2 separate regions of the Homo sapiens genome follow, and region 2 is linked to region 1. Evidence: fine-mapped expression QTL. Tissue or cell type: whole blood. Region 1 holds a variant in brackets; the other region holds the start of a gene. All regions are shown on one strand. Distances are between the middles of the regions.

Region 1 (5,372 bases):
TCCAATTCGCTGTTCATGGGCATCTAGGCTGATTCCATGGCATCTTATTTGCCTTAGCTGTTTTGTTGTTTGTTTGTTTGTTTTGAAACAGAATCTCACTCTGTCACCCAGGCTGGAGTGCAGTGGTATGATCTCAGCTCACTGCAACCTCCACCTCCCAGGTTCAAGCAATTCTCCTGCCTCAACCTCCCGAGTAGCTAGGATTACGGGTGCGCACCTCCATGCCCGGCTATGTTTTGCATTTTTAGTAGAGACGGAGTTTCACCATGTTGGTCAGGCTGGTCTTGAACTCCTGACCTCAGGTGATCCACCTGCCTCAGCCTCCCAAAGTGCTGGGATTACAGGCATGAGCCACCGCGCCTGGCACCTTCACAGTTTTTATGTCTCAGTGTTTCATTATTGCTTCAAGTGTCTGACTTAAGGTAAGTCATTTAAGCCCTCAGGGCCTCATCTTCTTCCCTGGAAAATGGAGGTGACAGTGTTCCTACCTCAGGAAACTGTTGTGTCAGTTAATAGAATAAATAAGTGTAAAGCACTTGCACCACACCTGGCTCCTAGTGTCATCACCACAACTGCCATCCCCGCGGTTACTGTTCACTGTCACTTTCTTCTCCAGCCTGGCCAAGGCCAGGTCTCTAGTCCAGGCTCACTGCCCAGCCTCTCCTAGCCACACGCTGCAGTAAAGGTGGAATTCTGAATGAGAGCTGAATCTTTCTGAAAGCATTGGGGCTCCCCTATGCTTTAGGTGAGTTCAGACTCCTCTCGGCCACGGGGGCCCTCCCCCTACACCTGGGCCCCTTCTTGGTCTCCTCATCTCATGATTCCTCCAGCTGTCTCTAAGCCCTTGATTCTCCTGCCATTTGGAAATTCTTCCAGATTTCATATGGGCTTTAACTGGGACAGTCTTCCCTCTCTTCTGCCAACCCTTGCTCTTCCTTTAGGTACCAGCATCGTGTGGCTCTTGGAAAAGCCAGCCAGGAGTGCATGATAGGCCCTGTCTACTTTGTGCCCCCTCAGGAGCCCTCCAGAATTGTAATTACCATGAACACCTGTGCACCATCATGAGTCCCATGAGGCAGGGTGTGCTCTCCTGCCCTGCACTGGTGTGGCTTCCAACTGTGCCTGGCACAAGGTCAGGAGCCCTCGAAGGTAAACTGTGTCTCTAAGGTGATGAGTTGCCTTCCTGTCTTAATTGCTCCAGGGAGATAACTTAATCCAAGGCCATGTTCAGTTAATTTAGAAAAGCCTAAAGTCTAGAACCCTTTCTCTGAGTCTCTGTTCAGGAGAATGTTCCTTTATGAATTCTGGGGATTTGATTTAAACTTGAAAAGAGATTATGGCCTTGGCATTTGGCGGGATGGTACTTTTCCAAGGGGAAGAAAATAATAAAAGAAATTACTGTGAACCATGTATTAATTTGCAAACCAACTTTTTCTTACAGAGTTCCTCTTTATTTTTCCAAACATGTATTTAAAAGATACATTTGAGTGAAGCAATGTCCTGGCTTTAATCTGCGGGATTTAGTGGTTTACTACCCCCAGTGGTAACCAGCCTTTCCTTTCCCTGACCACTAATGGGCTGGTGGGAGCTGGTGGTTCCCACAACTTCTATTTGTGTGTATGTTATCCCATCTTTAAAGATTTCTAGTTTAGCTGCATTTTATAAGGTGTATAATATTATGTCAGTACTTCTACATGATTTATCAATAAGTAATATATATATTGGGGTTACATGCTCAAATGCTATAAAGATGGTTGAAGTTGTGATGCATTATTTTAAAATTAGGAATAGGGCTGGGCACAGTGGCACACACCTGTAATCCCAGCACTTTGGGAGGCAAGGCGGGAGGATTGCTTGAAGCCCAGGAGTTCGAGACCAGCCTGGCCAAGATGGCAAGAAAGGACCACACTGTCTTAAAAATAAAAAAAAGAGGCCAGGTGTGGTGGCTCATGCCTGTAATCCCAGCACTTTAGGAGGCCAAGGTGGGCAGATCATTTAGGCCAGGAGTTCGAGACCAGCCTGGCCAACATGGTAAAACCCTGTCTCTACTAAAAAAAAAAAAAAAAAAAAAAAAAGTTTTCTGGGCGTGGTGGCGCATGCCTGTGAGGATAATGATTACGTAGAACTGTATCTGTACAGTGGTTTGCAGACTGTAGAAATCAGCATGAGCTCTTTGGGATGAAGGGTTGAGCCCTTCGGCTCGGCCTCCTCAGCAGTGTTGCTGGATGCTGTTTGTGAAGCACAGTTACCTGAGTCACCCGAGGAGCCTTAAGTGTGTCCCCCACCCCTGGCTTGCACTCTCAGGATGCCCTTCACTGCCCTGAGTGGGGCCGGGGTGGGTGTTGAGCCTCCCAGCTGATTCCAAGCGTGGCTCCTCCCCAGCAAACTGAGCCGTGGCTCCCAGACACCCACCTGAGGGACTTGGATACAGCATGCAGGAGCTAGAGAGCAGTAAGAAAGACTCTAAGAAGACTCTTTCCACCAAATTAAGTTCATTAATAAAGGAATTAGGTAATTGGCATGGGATGTTTAGAATAACTAGCTGATACCGGGAGAAAGCGATGCGGGGGAAAGGTAACACCTCCTGTGCGTGGGCATGAAAGTCACTTATCTGATCCCCATTTGTCCTCATTGGTACCAGATGTCCCATCCCATTGT[G/A]TCATTTCTGTGTGGCTTACTGGGGAGGCAGAGGGGATGAGGCAACAGCTGTTTTCTTCCTGTCTCCTTCATGCCCTGCCCACACTTTCATTCTCCATTCTGGGGGTAGTGGAAGGAAAGGCTGCTGCTCCCTTCCCAGAAACCAGGGCCATCGTGCCCCTCCTTGGCCTTACTGTTGGAATACTGGGAATCCTGTGACTGTACCCACAGCTGCAGTCCTAAAGCAGGGAGGTAGGCAGGAGAAATTTTATTAAACATGCTTGGAACACATTCGTGATTGGGGGTGGGGATTGTGGCTCTTAGGGCAGCCCTGGGAAGTTTAGGTGACTGAGTATTTTAGGAGTCTGCACATGTCTGCCTGGATACCTCATGAATGCCAGCTCATCCTCAGATCCCAACTTAAAATCCCTTCCTCTGGGAAGCTGGTTCCAATTCTGGACTGGTCGGGCTCCTTCCCTGCTCTGTGCCCGCTGGGACAGTAGTCTTCAGTCATACATCCACTCAGCTCCACCCCAAATCTGTCCCTTGCTCTGCAGGCTCAGGCCCCCCACCCCCTCATCATGCACCTGGACTTCTGCATCAGGGTCCCCCTCAGTCGGCTCCTGGCCTCTCACCTCTTCCCTGCTGCCGGCTCCAGGGTGACCTGGACCACCACCCCACACTTTCACTGCCCCCAGCAGCGTTTCTTAAAGCTGGGTTGGATCTGTAGAAGGATTCCCCAGGGTGCTTTTTTGAGCTTCCCCAAGACCTGCTAGGGCTGACCATTGTAGGTAGCCTGGAGAATGTGCATTTGACAAGCTCCCTGGTAATGCTGGCAAAGGCAGAAGTTTAGGGACCACTGAGCAGGGTCCACCAGGCGGTTCACAGTCTCCTATCCACGCGCTGTCTACATCTCATGACTCTGTCCCATGCCCTGCACACCCCACCCGCCACACCCCACTGCCTTGATTTCCCCTCACGTGCCTCTGTTCCCTTTCACACTCGGAGGGCTGTGGCTGTGCTGTCAGTGTGCACAGATGCTGTTGGGTAGCCCTCCTGGCTGTGACTCCCTTCTGGTGTCCTGTGCTCACCTCTGTGTTTGGTAGCTGTGGAACTCAATGCCCATCCCAGAGTCAATCATTTTGACTTAAGACAAGCGATTATATCTTTGCACTCCTAACATCTGTCTAGCACAGCCTGACACCTAGGAGGCAGAAAAAACAGTTTTGAATGTGCGAGTTGAGTGTGGCCAAAGTGAGAAGCACCTGGAGTTGGCCTGTATTCTGTGGCTCCCTCATGTGCCTAGCCCCCAAACACTGCCCTCATGTTACAGGGAAATGTGGCAAGTGAGGATATAAAGGTGTAGGAGATAAAGAAATATGGCAACATTATTGAAGTTAGGAACCGTCTGGATTTTGTCTTGGTGCTTCCAAGACCTCAGCATCACGGAGCAGTGGGTTGTATGAAGTTCAAGGCTCCCTTTTTCATGGAAAATTACAAGCACATTTATTTTTAGGTCCCATGTCCCTATTTGTTCTTTCTTCAACTCTTTGTGTGGCAATGTTAACAAAGAGGAGGAGGAGAGAGGGCAGCATGACAGGACAGACTTGCCCCATCTGTTACTCCTTCTCCAATATCACCAGTGAAAACCAGGATTCCCCAGACTTTTGCCATCCCGGTTCCCATCTGTTGCGTTTCTTACCATTGATGAAAGCCATTGACAAGAATAAAAGTGACTGATAAAATAATAGCATGGGGGAAAGTAAAATCTACAATATGCTTCTGGGAATTTGTCTTACCAGCGTGGATAAGGTTGTGCATCGCAGCGTTGGTTGTGGAAACAGTCTGTGTGTCCACTTAGACTGTAGTCCAGCCACAAAGGGGGACATTCTGCAGCTGGAACAGAAGGAAGAGAAGGCCCACATGGAAAAATTTCTGTTCTATAGTGTTCAGAGCAAAAAGTAAGGTACAGAACAATATATATCTTCTTTGCATTTTTGTGTAAGAGAAAAGTAAGAATATATATTTGTGTTTATTTGTAAATAATTGAGAGATCCTGCGTAGACACCAAAGAGCCAACACAATGGCAGTCCATGGTGGGGGCACGGGGAGGGCTGGGACAGTGTGGGAACCGGATTTCTCAGAGTGCCTCTCTTTATAGTATCTTGATTTTTTTGAACCATGTGAATATCTTACCTTTCAAAAACTTATACAGAGGTTAAAAACAATATATAAAATATGATTTTTAAGTTTAAAGTTACATAAATAGCCTGATCATTCTTTTGTCATTAACACCAAACCACTCGCCAGCGTTTGCCCCGCCTGGGGCCCCGCATGGCTTTCATCACAAGCTTCTCATTTCACCTCTACAAGGAGGGTGTGGACTTGCCCAGTAATGCACAGCTGGAAAGCAGGCAAGTCAGGATTGGAACTCCTGATCTCCATCTTGGGGATTATAAAACGGAAGCAGAGCAGAGGGTACTTCCTTTCAGTGATGGACACGGGACCAATTCACAGATGCAGGCACTAAAAACTGCACCTGTGAAGTTAAATCCAGTATCTTGGGTCTTTTCATGCTTTGTAAAGTTGTGCTTCATGTCTTCAGGCTCTTTAGGGTATCTGCATCCAGTTAGGACCCGGTGGTCATCTCATGTGACCTTTGACCCCTTCCCTTTGTGGAAAGCAGTAGCCATGCACACCCTGTAGCTCTGGGGTCAGGTGAGCAGGGCCAGCCT
Region 2 (5,372 bases), 27 kb before region 1:
CAAGCCAAGCTGGGGAATGTTCTCTTCTATTAGCTGTCTGTTCAACTTCTTGGACCCCTTCATCCCCCTCCTAAACCTTTTCATCTCCACCCAGGCTCACGTACCCCACTCTCCCCAAAAACAAGGCCTATGTTTTTTTAGATTCAGAGAAAATTTTTTTTCATTTTTTGAAGATTTTTCCAAAGCTGTTGTCACTGAAGTACACCCAAATGCACATATTTAAAGTATACGATTCTGTCAGTTTTGACATTCATATGCCCATGAAACTATCACCTCTCAAACTACATTGCCATCAGCCCCCAAAGTTTCTTTGTGCCCTTTAAAATCCATTCCTCCCTCCCCATCATCCCCAGGTAACCACTGATCTGCTTTCTCTATATGTATGTCAGTTTGTATTTTCTGGTGTTTTATATAAATAGAATCATACAGTATGTTCTTTTTTGCCTTGCTTCTTTCACTCAGTATAACGATTTTGAGACTTTTCAATGTCATGTAATAGTTTGTCTTTATTGCTCAGTAGCATTCCATTGTATGGATATACTACAATTTATTCATTCATCCACTGATGGATTTGAGTTTCTTGTTGTTTTGCTTTGTGTGTGTGTGTGTGTGTGTGTGTGTGTGTGGGTGTGTGTGTGTGTGTGTGTTTGGCTATAACAAACAAAGCTCCTATGAACATCCACATTCAAGTCTCTGGGTTTCATGTTTTCCTTTTTCTTTGGTAAATACCTATAAGTAGATTGGTTGAGTCATATGGTAAGTATACGTTTAACTTCTTAGGAAACTTCCAAACTGATTTCCAAAGTAGTGGTGCCATCTTACACCTCCACCAGCAATGTATGACCATTTCAATTGCTCTGCGTCCTCACCAACATTGGATACAATCAGTCGTTTTAAAGTTAACCATCTCATTGCATGTTTTTGTGGGGTGTATGTATGTGTGTTTTTAAATGCACTTTGGTTTGGCCAACGCTTGGTTTCATTTATACCAAGGGGAGCATTTGCTAGGTTTATGGGGAATAAAACCAGATTATTTCTGTTGTTCTAGGATATTATTAATAGAGTCCTCTCTTCACCTCCAGAGTGTCCTGGTTTGTATGATAAAATATGTTTTCTCTGCTTCCAGCCCAAGTAGCCACGCTCCACGGCTGTGCTTCCACAGCCACGTTGCGCATCAAGGCATTCTGCTCAACGAAGAGTTTTCTCTGTTTTCCTGCTTGTCTTAAACTGTTTTTTCCTTACCGCACCAGGATTTCAGTGCGTGGCATAATGTAGCCCAGTGTTTGGGTGGGAGATGATGGTAGGTAGCAAGGCATTTTTGCGATCAAGTGCAAATAGCTTGCCTAAAAATAAAGCCAATAAAGAGAACCGTGGAGCCAGAGATGGAGGCAGTCCTGCCATGTCCTAATGACCCCATCATCACTTGGGTCGGATGCAACCAGACTTGAGGTAAGATTCCTTACCTTAACTTTTCAACAAGGAACCAAAAATTTCCCCCCGACCTTTTTTTTTTTTTTTTTGGTCTAAGCTAGTTTGACTTGGTTTTCTGACCAATATACATAGCAGGGGAATGTGCCTCAGAAAGGCAGTAGCATTTTCCAAACTTGGGCTGCCGCTAATTTTACAACCAAAGTACCTTCCGCCTGTGAGAGGTACTATTTTTGCTGACCCAGTCCTTGGAATTGAAACCAGATGCACTGGTCACATTGGTTGGGGATGAAACTTCAGAGAACACTAAACGTCCAGGGTCAAAGTATTCAACGATATCACCGCATGATTTGCTTAATCGAATACTCTAGCTCTAGGTATCCACTATAATGCAGAGGGCTCTTTAATCTTTAACCAAATTGTCATTTAGCAGTGTGATGCAAAAACTCTTCTGGGTTTTGGGAAGCAGCCCCCATTTCCCTCCTTCGTAATGATTAGACTTAATATTACAAAAACTTATCCTTGTTTACTCACAGCGCTAAATGTGCAAAGGAGCAAACCTGTATTTGACCTATGCGAACACACAGGAGGGTGGTGCGTGCCCTCTGCTAGGAGCACAATGCGTCGCTGGCGTTATTAGAGGACATCTCTCTGAGCGGAGCAAAGGTAATACACTGGTGGAAGAAAAGAAAAGGCCGAAAGTGGGGACAGAAATTAAGACGATCCCATTCAGTCTCCTCTGGAACGTTCTGCAAAATTCCGTGAGACCCTGGACCTACAGCGATGCACTCTCAGGGACTGCCCCGGCCTTCATCCCCACACCTCAAAGACAGACGAAAAGCAGCTGAGCAGATCTCGCCTCGGGCAATCCTAAACAGCCTCTACCAGGCACAACCAGTCCTAGGCCCCGGGCGGCAACCATGGTCCGGGGGCAGCTGACTTAGGACAGCCTCCCTGTGACCCGCCCTCGCCGGCACGGCGCCGGCTCCGCCCCTTAAGCCCCCTAAGTCCCGCCTCTGCGCTCCCGGGGCCTACCCCCGCGCTCATGGCCCCGCCCCCGCTTTTCCTACCCCATCGCGCCCTGGCCCCGCTCCCACACTCTATGACCCCGCCTCTCGCACTCCAGGCCCGCCCCACGCGCTCCAGGGTTCTGCTCTCCACCCATTTGTGCCAGGCCACGCCCCCACACCCATGGCTCCTCCTCTCGCACGCCAGGGCCTCCCCTCGCGCTCTCTGGTTCGTTCTCCACCCTCTTGAGCCTTGATGCCGCCCCCTCTTCCATGGCCCCGCCTCTCCCACTCCAGGCCCGCCCTTGCGCTCTCGGGTTCCTCTCTCCACCCACTGGTGCCAGGCCTCGCCCCGCGCCAGGGCCCCTCCCCCACGTGCCCTCGGGAGTCCCGGGGAGGAGTTGCCGCGCGGAGGAGGCGTGGCCGCGGTGCCTGCGGAGGCGCGAGCGGCGCGGCGCGGCGCGGCCGGGACTTTGGCTTTGACACCGACTGCGAGCGGGAGCCGTGCGGCTGGTGCTGGGTCTGGACTGGCTCTGGCGGATCCCCGCCCGAGTTGGGCGCAGGACTTTTTGCCGGGGTAAACGCAACTGCGGCGGCGCCGCCGCAAGCCCCGGTGCAGCCTCGGCGGCGGGTTTCGCCGCCGCTGCCGCCGCCTCCGAGCAGCCCTGCGGCTTCTATTCACTCTGGGAGAGCGATGCTAAGTTTCTCCCATAGAAAGAGCCGGGACACGCAGACCGAAGCGGCGTAGTCGGCTTCCAGGGCCTGACCAGTGACCCACACCCGCGCGGACGCCTAGGCTGGAGGCAGGGGGCCCGTGCTGTCCCGGGCTGGGCTCAGGCTTCCGAGCCGCAGGTGGAAGAGGAACCGGCGCCCCGCAGAGCGGCCGAGAGGTGGGGCGCGGGGACCCGCGGCAGGTCGGGTGGGGGGTCGATAAGCCCCTTCTCAGTGCCCGCTCCGGGGAGCACGGACTTCCCAGGTTGCAGGTAGCGCTGTGTCAGATGCGGAGCGTGGGGGAGGTGGAGTGGCCACCCCGTCTGCGCGAGCCCAAGTGTGGGTGACCCAAGTGTCAGAGTTGAGAGAGGCCTGGAGGAGAGGCATGAGGCTGATGGGGATAGGTCTCTTCCCAAGAGAAGCGGCTCGTAGCCTTTTTGGACTCCAGTGTGATAAAACCCGGACGTCCCTAGAGGAGAATCCACATGGGCCTAGCCTCATTGTGCCTGCGTTTTTAGGGGTTCACGGGCAGCCACCAGTCCCCGACTCCTGGTTACTAACTCTAGCACTAGGTAGGGGGTGCTAATGCAAATTTCTTAATTCAATGGGTTTCTATGTTTATTGATTTATTTTCTAGGCGGCCAAGTGAAAGGTAATTTTGGACACGCCAGGCATGGAAGATTCGGTGTTTGTCTATAGTAACCTCTTCAGTCCCTGAATCCTGCACCTTCCGTTTTTCTGTGCTTGTACGGCCTACTGGGCTTCCTCCCTAGCCAGAGAGCTCTTCTGCAGTGGTGCGGCCTTCCCGGGAGCCTGATCCTGGCGGACCATGGGGAGCACCCTGGGCTGCCACCGCTCCATCCCCAGGGACCCCTCGGACCTGTCCCATAGCCGCAAGTTCAGCGCAGCCTGTAACTTCAGCAACATTCTAGTGAATCAGGAGCGGCTCAACATCAACACTGCCACGGAGGAGGAGCTGATGACCCTGCCTGGGGTGACGCGTGCCGTGGCACGCAGCATCGTGGAGTACCGAGAGTATATCGGTGGCTTCAAGAAGGTGGAGGACCTGGCATTGGTCAGTGGTGTAGGCGCCACCAAGCTGGAGCAGGTCAAGTTTGAGATCTGTGTGAGCAGCAAGGGCAGCTCAGCGCAGCACTCTCCCAGTTCCCTGCGGCGGGACCTGCTAGCGGAGCAGCAGCCTCACCACCTGGCCACAGCTGTGCCCCTCACCCCACGTGTTAACATCAACACAGCCACCCCGGCCCAGCTCATGAGCGTGCGAGGCCTCTCGGAGAAAATGGCCCTCAGCATCGTGGACTTCCGCCGTGAGCATGGGCCCTTTCGCAGCGTTGAGGACCTAGTGAGGATGGATGGTATCAATGCCGCCTTCCTGGACAGGATCCGGCACCAGGTGTTTGCTGAGAGGTCCAGGCCCCCATCCACCCACACGAACGGGGGACTGACCTTCACCGCCAAGCCTCACCCGAGCCCCACTTCCCTGAGCCTGCAGAGTGAGGACCTGGACCTGCCGCCAGGGGGGCCCACCCAGATTATCTCCACTCGGCCGTCCGTGGAGGCCTTTGGAGGCACAAGGGATGGGAGGCCTGTGCTGAGGCTGGCCACCTGGAACTTGCAGGGCTGTTCCGTGGAGAAGGCCAACAACCCCGGGGTGCGAGAGGTGGTGTGCATGACACTCCTGGAAAACAGGTGAGGACAGGAACCACCATGGGTGTTGGGTGTGAAGGCAACTTGTGCGTGACCTCATCTATGGATGCAAATGAATGGATTCTTTTGCGGGTAGGGAGGGTGCAAGAGTTTTTAATCAATGTTCTTGAAGCCTCAGCCAATACCGTCACCTGAGAATGGGCTGTCCTTCTGCTCCAGAATTTTCTGAATACAGCTGGGCTTGTGACCCATGTCTTGAGTGTGAGATATCTGAGACTGATTCATAATTTTGGGGTAAGCAGAGGTTGTGTTTTTGTTACTGCTTTGGAGGATGCTGGGTCTACACCAAGTCAGGCACTCAGAGCATGGGAACTGGTGCAGTTTCGCATGTGAGAAAGAGCTCATTGGATTTTGTTTATTAATGGGAGGGAAAATCATATTTGTTCCATCAAATATGCCTATTTGTGCACACAAAATCATCTTAAAGGCCAAGTATTTGCAAACACATACAAGTGTCTATATTTACCAAAATGCTATGAATGAATCACTCTCCATTCTTTT

What was found. PIP is the estimated chance that this variant, and not a neighbour inherited with it, causes the effect.
Region 2: EEPD1 starts here. The variant in region 1 is fine-mapped to the expression of EEPD1 in whole blood (TOPMed, PIP above 0.99).

Annotation. Positions count from the first base shown.
Region 1 is chr7:36,177,648-36,183,019 of GRCh38, forward strand. All of the region lies in intron 2 of EEPD1 (endonuclease/exonuclease/phosphatase family domain containing 1), which reads left to right. Among named protein-coding and RNA genes, the nearest start is that of EEPD1, 27 kb to the left of the region's middle. The variant G/A (reference allele first, on the strand shown) is at 2,659.
Region 2 is chr7:36,150,350-36,155,721 of GRCh38, forward strand. EEPD1 (endonuclease/exonuclease/phosphatase family domain containing 1) reads left to right here and starts at 2,905. Exons shown (of 8, transcript NM_030636.3): 1 at 2,905-3,325; 2 at 3,784-4,853. The coding sequence starts at 3,976. RefSeq lists a silencer at 2,317-3,036.